Linked DNA regions of Homo sapiens. The protein of the gene in region 2 interacts with the protein of the main gene of each other region in a biochemical or structural test. Each region holds a gene or a part of one and is shown on either strand. Other genes may lie near its edges.

The links.
Region 1: the proteins of NUPR1 (region 2) and KPNA4 form a complex in vitro, tested with the Homo sapiens proteins (one study listed by BioGRID).

Annotation. Positions count from the first base shown.
Region 1 is NC_000003.12:160,497,040-160,499,571, reverse strand, and holds part of KPNA4 (importin subunit alpha-3), read left to right. Parts: 3' UTR 1-2,532. UniProt on the Homo sapiens protein: Functions in nuclear protein import as an adapter protein for nuclear receptor KPNB1. Binds specifically and directly to substrates containing either a simple or bipartite NLS motif.
Region 2 is NC_000016.10:28,535,946-28,540,415, forward strand, and holds the start of NUPR1 (nuclear protein 1), read right to left. Parts: upstream 3,030-4,470; 5' UTR 2,963-3,029; coding exon 2,851-2,962; intron 2,265-2,850; coding exon of another isoform or gene 2,211-2,264; coding exon 2,074-2,210; 3' UTR 2,061-2,073; intron 1,725-2,060; 3' UTR 1-1,724. UniProt on the Homo sapiens protein: Transcription regulator that converts stress signals into a program of gene expression that empowers cells with resistance to the stress induced by a change in their microenvironment.

The DNA.
Region 1 (2,532 bases), on a different chromosome or scaffold from region 2:
TGGGAAGGGCTTTTCTGTCTCTGAAATTGATTCAGTACAGTTGACAGTTCATCACGGTTACCTGGTTAAACACTTTTTTTTTTTTTTTAATTCTCCAGTGATCTAGGAAATTGTTTCATTTTTAACACAGGCTTATTTCTGATGGGGATGGGGGCATAGAATAATATGCCTAATAAGCTAAACGTTCTTAACGTTTCATGTCTTAAACTGTCTTTTTGAACATTGAGACCACCTCAAGTGCTGTAAAAATAAGAATGTTATATTAGGGGTGTGTGAGACGCCCTAGTCTAAAATCTATCTTTAAATATATTTCCTTTGTAATTTTCAAAGACTTCAGTAATTGTGTGTTATGGTGGAAATAATACTTTCCATTGGTCCACATTGCTCTGGACCAAACCTGGAGCATTTCTATAATTAGAGCTATCTATGAATCATTAAAAATGGATCTAGAATAATTTTGGGGAGAGGGAGTGTATCATTTAGTTTAGGCTTACCTCAGCAGCACTTCATAGGGTGAGGAGTTGTTTGTTTCTTTAAAGGTATAACTGCATTGTAAAATGACTGGGTTTATTGTAACAGTAATTTATGGGGGCACCCTTTTTGGATTCTCCATTGCCTCAGTTTCCTCAAGGAAAAAGTTACAGAGATTAAGCTAAATTTTGAATTTAGAGAATAACTGCTGTGTAATTTTGGTATAATTACCATAAATTTAGTGTCTTAAAACACAACATACATTATTTCACAATTTCTGTAGGTCAAGAGTGTAGTTAGGTTTTCTGCTCAGGGTCTCACAAGGCTGCAATAAAGGTGTCAGCCAGAGCTGCAGTCTTATCTGAAGCTAGGGGGTCCTCTTTTATGCACATATGGCAAAATCCATTGCCTAGCAACTGAAGAAATCATGGGAACTTCTTCAAGGCCAGCAAGAGAATCTCTGATCTCAGGGAAGGCCTTAAGCGCTTTTTTAAAGGTCTCACCTGATTAGATCAGGCCACCTACCCACCAGGGTGATCTCCCTTTTGATTAACCCAAAGCCAAACTGATGAGGTACCTTCATTACCCCTGCAAAATCCCTTCACCTTTGCCCTGCATTGTAGTCCAATCACAGGGGTGATACGCATCATATTCAAAGATCCTGTTCACAGTCAAGGGAGGGGGTTATATGGAGTATGTATACCAGGGAATCTTGGGAGCCATCTTAAGAGTTCTTCCTATGACAAGGACTCAACTATTTAGAACTGGAACAATTTACAAGTGATAGCCTTATATAGTTATCATAGCAAGCTTATTTGGGGATCAAGGTTGCCTCTGAGAACCTAATGAAAACTGGACCAGCTTCCCCAAAAAGTGTATATACATGGTAGTTTTTCATACAGTTTTAGGGGATTCATAAGAGTCCATGAATTACAGTCTGTCCCAACCCTTCCCTTTAGATGATGAGTTGTTGAGGTGACTTGCCCAAGGTCACACAGCTACTAAGGGCCAAATAAAGCCCACATCTCAACTCCCATACTGCCCAGGGCTTCTAATTACTATTCTAAAGGTAATCTAAATTCATTTAAATTTGTGAACCAATGCAAAAAAATGTGAATGTAGCTTTTTGGATATTTTTTTTGTTTACTAAGGAATGGGTAACATTGTTATAGAAGCTTGCCTAAGAGTTTTGAAATTAGTTGACCTTTTTGAGTTTCCAAAATTGAATCTTCCATTGTAGCTATTAAAGTGAACTATAAATAGGCCAACTTTAATTGTTAACTCCTCGGGTTTGGTGGATTATCTACCATTTATATATAAAATTTCAGTTAGAATCCACCATTGGCGTTTTGAAGGCCAAGATAGCTGAGTATCTTATCCTTTTTGTAACTTCTTGATTATTTTACTTATTGGCAAAATTCATTAACTGTCAGCCAATAATTTAATATTATGGGAGGAAAAAATTTTGCCCAGATATCTGAGGCAATACTCCCAAACACTAACAAACTGATGCCTAACAAACTTGACATTTTGAACACTTAAAGTTTTCCCTAAACTTTTTAATAAGCACATTAATAAAGTATGCTTTTAAATATATATGTACAATAATTTTTAAAAGTTGCTGCAAGATGCCTTCAAATCAATATGCACGTTGGTGGCATTAGTGCAGTCTTCTATTTTTATTTTTTTGAGACACAGTCTCGCTCTGTGGCCCAGGCTGGAGTGTAGTGGCGCAATCTCGGCTCACTGCAACCTCTGCCTCAAGGGTTCAAGCAATTCTGCCTCAGCCTCCTGAGTAGCTGGGATTACAGGAGTACGCTACCACGCCTGGCTAATTTTTGTATTTTTAGTAGAAATGGGGTTTCACCGTATTGGCCAGGCTGGTATTGGAATCCTGACCGCAAATGATCTGCCCACCTCGGCTTCCCAAAGTGCTGGGATTACAGGCGTGAGCCACTGCGCCCAACCAGCCTTAATTCTTAATAAAGGAAGTTGAAAAATAATGAACATTGGTAAAACTATTCTAGTGTGATCAGAAGCAAATTTGGACTGTAGTGTCAA
Region 2 (4,470 bases):
AGCGATCCTCCCTCCTTGGCCTCCCAAAGGCTGGAAGGCTGAGGTGGGCAGATCATTTGAGGCCAGGAGTTTGAGACCAGCCTGGCCAACATGATGAAACCCCATCTCTACTAAAAATACAAAAATTGGCCAGGCGTGGTGGCTGACGCCTGTAATCCCAGCACTTTGGGAGGCCAAGGTGGGTGGATCATGAGGTCAAGAGATTGAGACCATCCTGGCCAACATGGTGAAACTCTGTTTCTACTAAAAATACAAAAATTAGCCAGGCATGGTGGCAGGTGCCTGTAGTCCCAGCTACTCAGGAGGCTGAAGCAGGAGAATAGCTTGAACCCAGGAGGCGGAGGTTGCAGTGAGCTGCGATCATGCCACTGCACTCCAGCCTGAGCAACAGAGTGAGACTCTGTATCAAAAAAACAAAAAAACAAAAATTAGCCAGGCGTGGTGGTGCTCACCTGTAATCCCAGCTACTCAGGGGGCGTAGGCACGAGAATTGCTTGAACCCGGGAGGCAGAGGTTGCAGTGAGCCAAGATGGTGCCACTGCACTCTAACCTGAGCAACAGAGTGAGACTCTGTCTCAAAAAAAAAATTGTAGAGATGGGGTCTTACTATGATGCTCAGGCTGGTCTCAAACTCCTAGGCTCAAGTAATCCTCCCACTTCGGCCTCCTAAACTGCTGTGATTACAGGCATGAGCCACTGCTCCCAGACTTTAGTTTTTGTTTGTTTGTTTGTTTTGAGACAGAGTCTCCCTCTGTCACCCAGGCTGGAGTGCAATGGCACGATGTCGGCTCACTGCAACCTCTACCTCCTGGGTTCAAGCGATTCTACTGCCTCAGCCTCCTGAGCAGCTGGGATTACAGGCACCTGCCACCATGCTTGGCTAATTTTTGGTATTTTTAGTGGAGATGGGGTTTCACCATGTTGGTCAGGCTGGTCTTGAACTCCTGACTTTGTGATCCACCCACCTCGGCCTCCCAAAGTGCTGGGATTACAGGCGTGAGCCACTGCCCCCGGCCCTGGCTTTTAATATTTTAAATCTCAGTTTTCTCTGACTTTTAGATGGCACTCATAAGTAGCGTTCCCGTCTATGAACAGGACACAATCAACAAAAACAGGTGCTGGGGAGGGCCGTGTTTCATGGGCAGTATCGCAAAAAAGCAGAAGAAATTCCTTTCCACTACGTAGGAGCCCACAGAAATGTATGCACTAAAATATATGCAAGCAAAAGCAAACAAACCAAAAGCTGCATTCACAGCGTAGACCCTGCAAGAGCAGGAACACTCCCTGCCCCAGATACATACACCAAACACAAATACACATCAAAGATGCTCTCTCAGGCTCATGAATGTGCAGGCACAGGCAAGCACACACATGCCCGAACAAAAACACACAAAGAACAAGGATGAACACACACCCAAGCTGTGGCTGCCGTGCGTGTCTATTTATTGTTGCTGCCACCCTGGAGGAGCCCCAGTTTCTTCTGTAGCTTTCTTTTCTGGGGGATCTTCCTGGCTCTGCCCCTCCATTCCCAGCCTCTCACTCCCCATCTTGCACTTTTGCTAGGGTTGGAGGCGCTTTCCTGGTAGCCCCTCAGAGACTCAGTCAGCGGGAATAAGTCCTAGGGGTGGGGGGTGTGGCAAGCCGGCCTGGATCCTGTCCTGGGTCCTCCTTCCTCCGCAGTCCCGTCTCTATTGCTGGGTGTAGTGTCCATGGTCTGGCCTCATCTGGGGGGTGAGGAAAAGCAGGTGGTAAAAGGGACAGAGATCTGGGTTCTAATTCTGCCTCTCCCACTCACTTGATTTGTGACTCCAGGGAAGGACCCACCCTCTCTATCCTCAATTTCTGTCTCTGTAAGTCAAATTTCCCTTCAATTGGAAAGGTTCTGTGTTCCCACTTTGCTCTGGCCACTAGGAAACTCACAATCAAACATATGTCTCGTTTTATTCTGCATCAAGACAACAGTTGCCTGATCCCTCCTCCCCACCCAATCACACACCTTCCGGCCTGTCCTTCATGGCAGAAGCACCACCTTGAGCTCTCTGGGCCCCCCGACTCCTTACCTCCAGCTCTGTCTCAGCGCCGTGCCCCTCGCTTCTTCCTCTCTGAATTCTGCAGCTTGGTCACCAGTTTCCTCTCGTGCCCGCCAGGGCTGGGGCGGTTGGTGTTGGCAGCAGCTTCTCTCTTGGTGCGACCTTTCCGGCCTCCACCTCCTGTAACCAAGGCAGGAGTCAGAGGTGAAGTGGGCATAGGCATGATGAGAGGCCCTGTCAGAGGAGAGGCAGGGGTTCAGGGTTGTGGGGATGGGAAGAGCAGGGAGAAGCCTGCTGCTTCCCCTCTGTGGAATGTGGGACCCCAGATGTGTGTGAGGTCCCAGGCTGAGTAACATAGCACTCCTGGGATAAGGGATTAGACAGGGGTGACGTGAGGGTCCAAGGAACAGGTTGGCTAGAAAAGGGTGAGTGGGCTGGGCAGGGTGGCTCACTCCTGTAATCTCAGCACTTTGGGAGGCCAAGGCAGGAGAATTGCTTGAGCCCAGGAATTTGGGATCAGCCTGGGAAACATAGTGAGACCCCATCTCACCACTGCAGGTGGTGTACACCTGAAGTTCCAGCCACTCAGGAGGCTGAAGCAGGAGGATCACTTGAGCCCAGGAGTTCGAGGCTGCGGTGAGTTGTTTGAGTTGTTGTGATCACACTACTGCACTCCAGCCTGGGTGACAGAGTGACTCTCTCAAAAAAAAAGAAAGAAAGAAACGAAGAGGAAAGGAAAGGAAATGAGAGGAAACAAGAGGGGTGGGTCCTGATTTCGGGAGAGGAGGAAGGACCGTGGAGATGGCTGAGTGGGCCTTACCGAGGTAGGAATGGGCCAGGCTATAGAGGTCAGATTCATCCAGGCTGGAGTCCTCGTCCTCCGGGCCTGGGGGCTGCTGGGGGGCGCTGGTTGCTGGTGGGAAGGTGGCCATCGTGCCTGGCTTGTCTTCCCTGCCTCTCTTCTTCTCCTAACGCTTTGTCTGTCTCTGCTTTCCTGGCCCCGGGCCTCTCCACTCCCTCAGCTTATAAGGCTGTGTCTCCTCCTCAGACCACAGTCTGGCTCCAGCCCATCAGGCCCTGTCTGATGCAATCTGGCCCCTTCCCAAAATCCAGCCCAGTAAACACAGTCATGAGACGGGAAGAGTCGGTCCCTGAGTCCAGCCCAACTCACCTCCTCCCTCCCAGGCTCACCCAGCTGGATATTTTCCATAGAGGAGGTCCCGCTTCTCGGCAGAAAGCAGGGAAGAGGCAGGATCTGGGCTAAAACACTCGTTGGGATCATGGCCTCACCTGATCGAGGGCTTCACCTGGGCCTGGGATGACGGCCACACAGCTAACCCCGGCACCCCAATTCTCGCTGAGATGCAGGACGTGAGGAAGGAGGGGGAAGGGATATCAGCACACTTGTGCCAGGGACAAGTCAGTGGCTTCCACCCAGTCACACTCAACATCTTGCTTGTCTTCTTTTTTTTTTTTGAAATGGAGTCTCTGTCGCCCGGCTGGAGTGCAGTGGTGTGATCTTGGCTCACTGCAACCTGCAACCTCCTCCTCCCAGGTTCAAGCAATTCTCCTGGCTCAGCCTCCCGAATAGCTGGGATTATAGACATCTGCCACCATGCCTGGCTAATTTTTGTATTTTTAGTAGAGATGGGGTTTCACCATGTTGGACAGGCTGATCTTGAACTCCTGACCTCAAGTCATCTGCCTGCCTCGGCCTCCCAAAGTGCTGGGATTACAGGCATGAGCCACACCCTTTTTTTTCTTTTTTCTATGAGAAACATCTTGGAAAACCCCTTAATATCCTGAAACAGGGTCCCCAGTAATGTAATCTCCCTCACCTAGGAGGAGGGTGGCAGAGGGTTGGAGAGTTCAGGGTCTGGAGCCAGTTGCCCTCAGTTCAATCCCCTGACCCACCACTTTCCGTGTGACCTTGGGCGAGTCCCTTCACCTCTCTGTGCCTTGGTTTCCAATTCTGTAAAATAAGGATGATAATAATTGTATCTTCTTCCTAGAGTTGGGGAGAGGATCAAATGAGATAATGTTTGAAAGACACATGCTACAGTGCCCGGTGACAGAGGGAGACCCTGTCTCAAAAACAAATTATAATAAAATAATATGTATTTCAAAATATGGATGTACTGAGGCAGAAGACACAATGAGGCCGAGCGTGGTGGCTTATGCCTGTAGTCCCAGCACTTTGGGAGATCCACAAAGTGGGTGGATCACCTGAGGTCAGGAGTTCAAGACCAGCCTGGCCAACATGGCGAAATCCCATCTCTACTAAAAATACAAAAATTAGCCTGGTGTGGTGGCAAGTGCCTGTAATCCCAGCTACTCAGGAGGCTGAGGCAGGAGAATCGCTTGAACCTGGGAGGGAGAGGTTGTGGTGAGCTGAGATCGAGCCACTGCACTCCAGCCTCAGCAACAGAATGAGACTGTG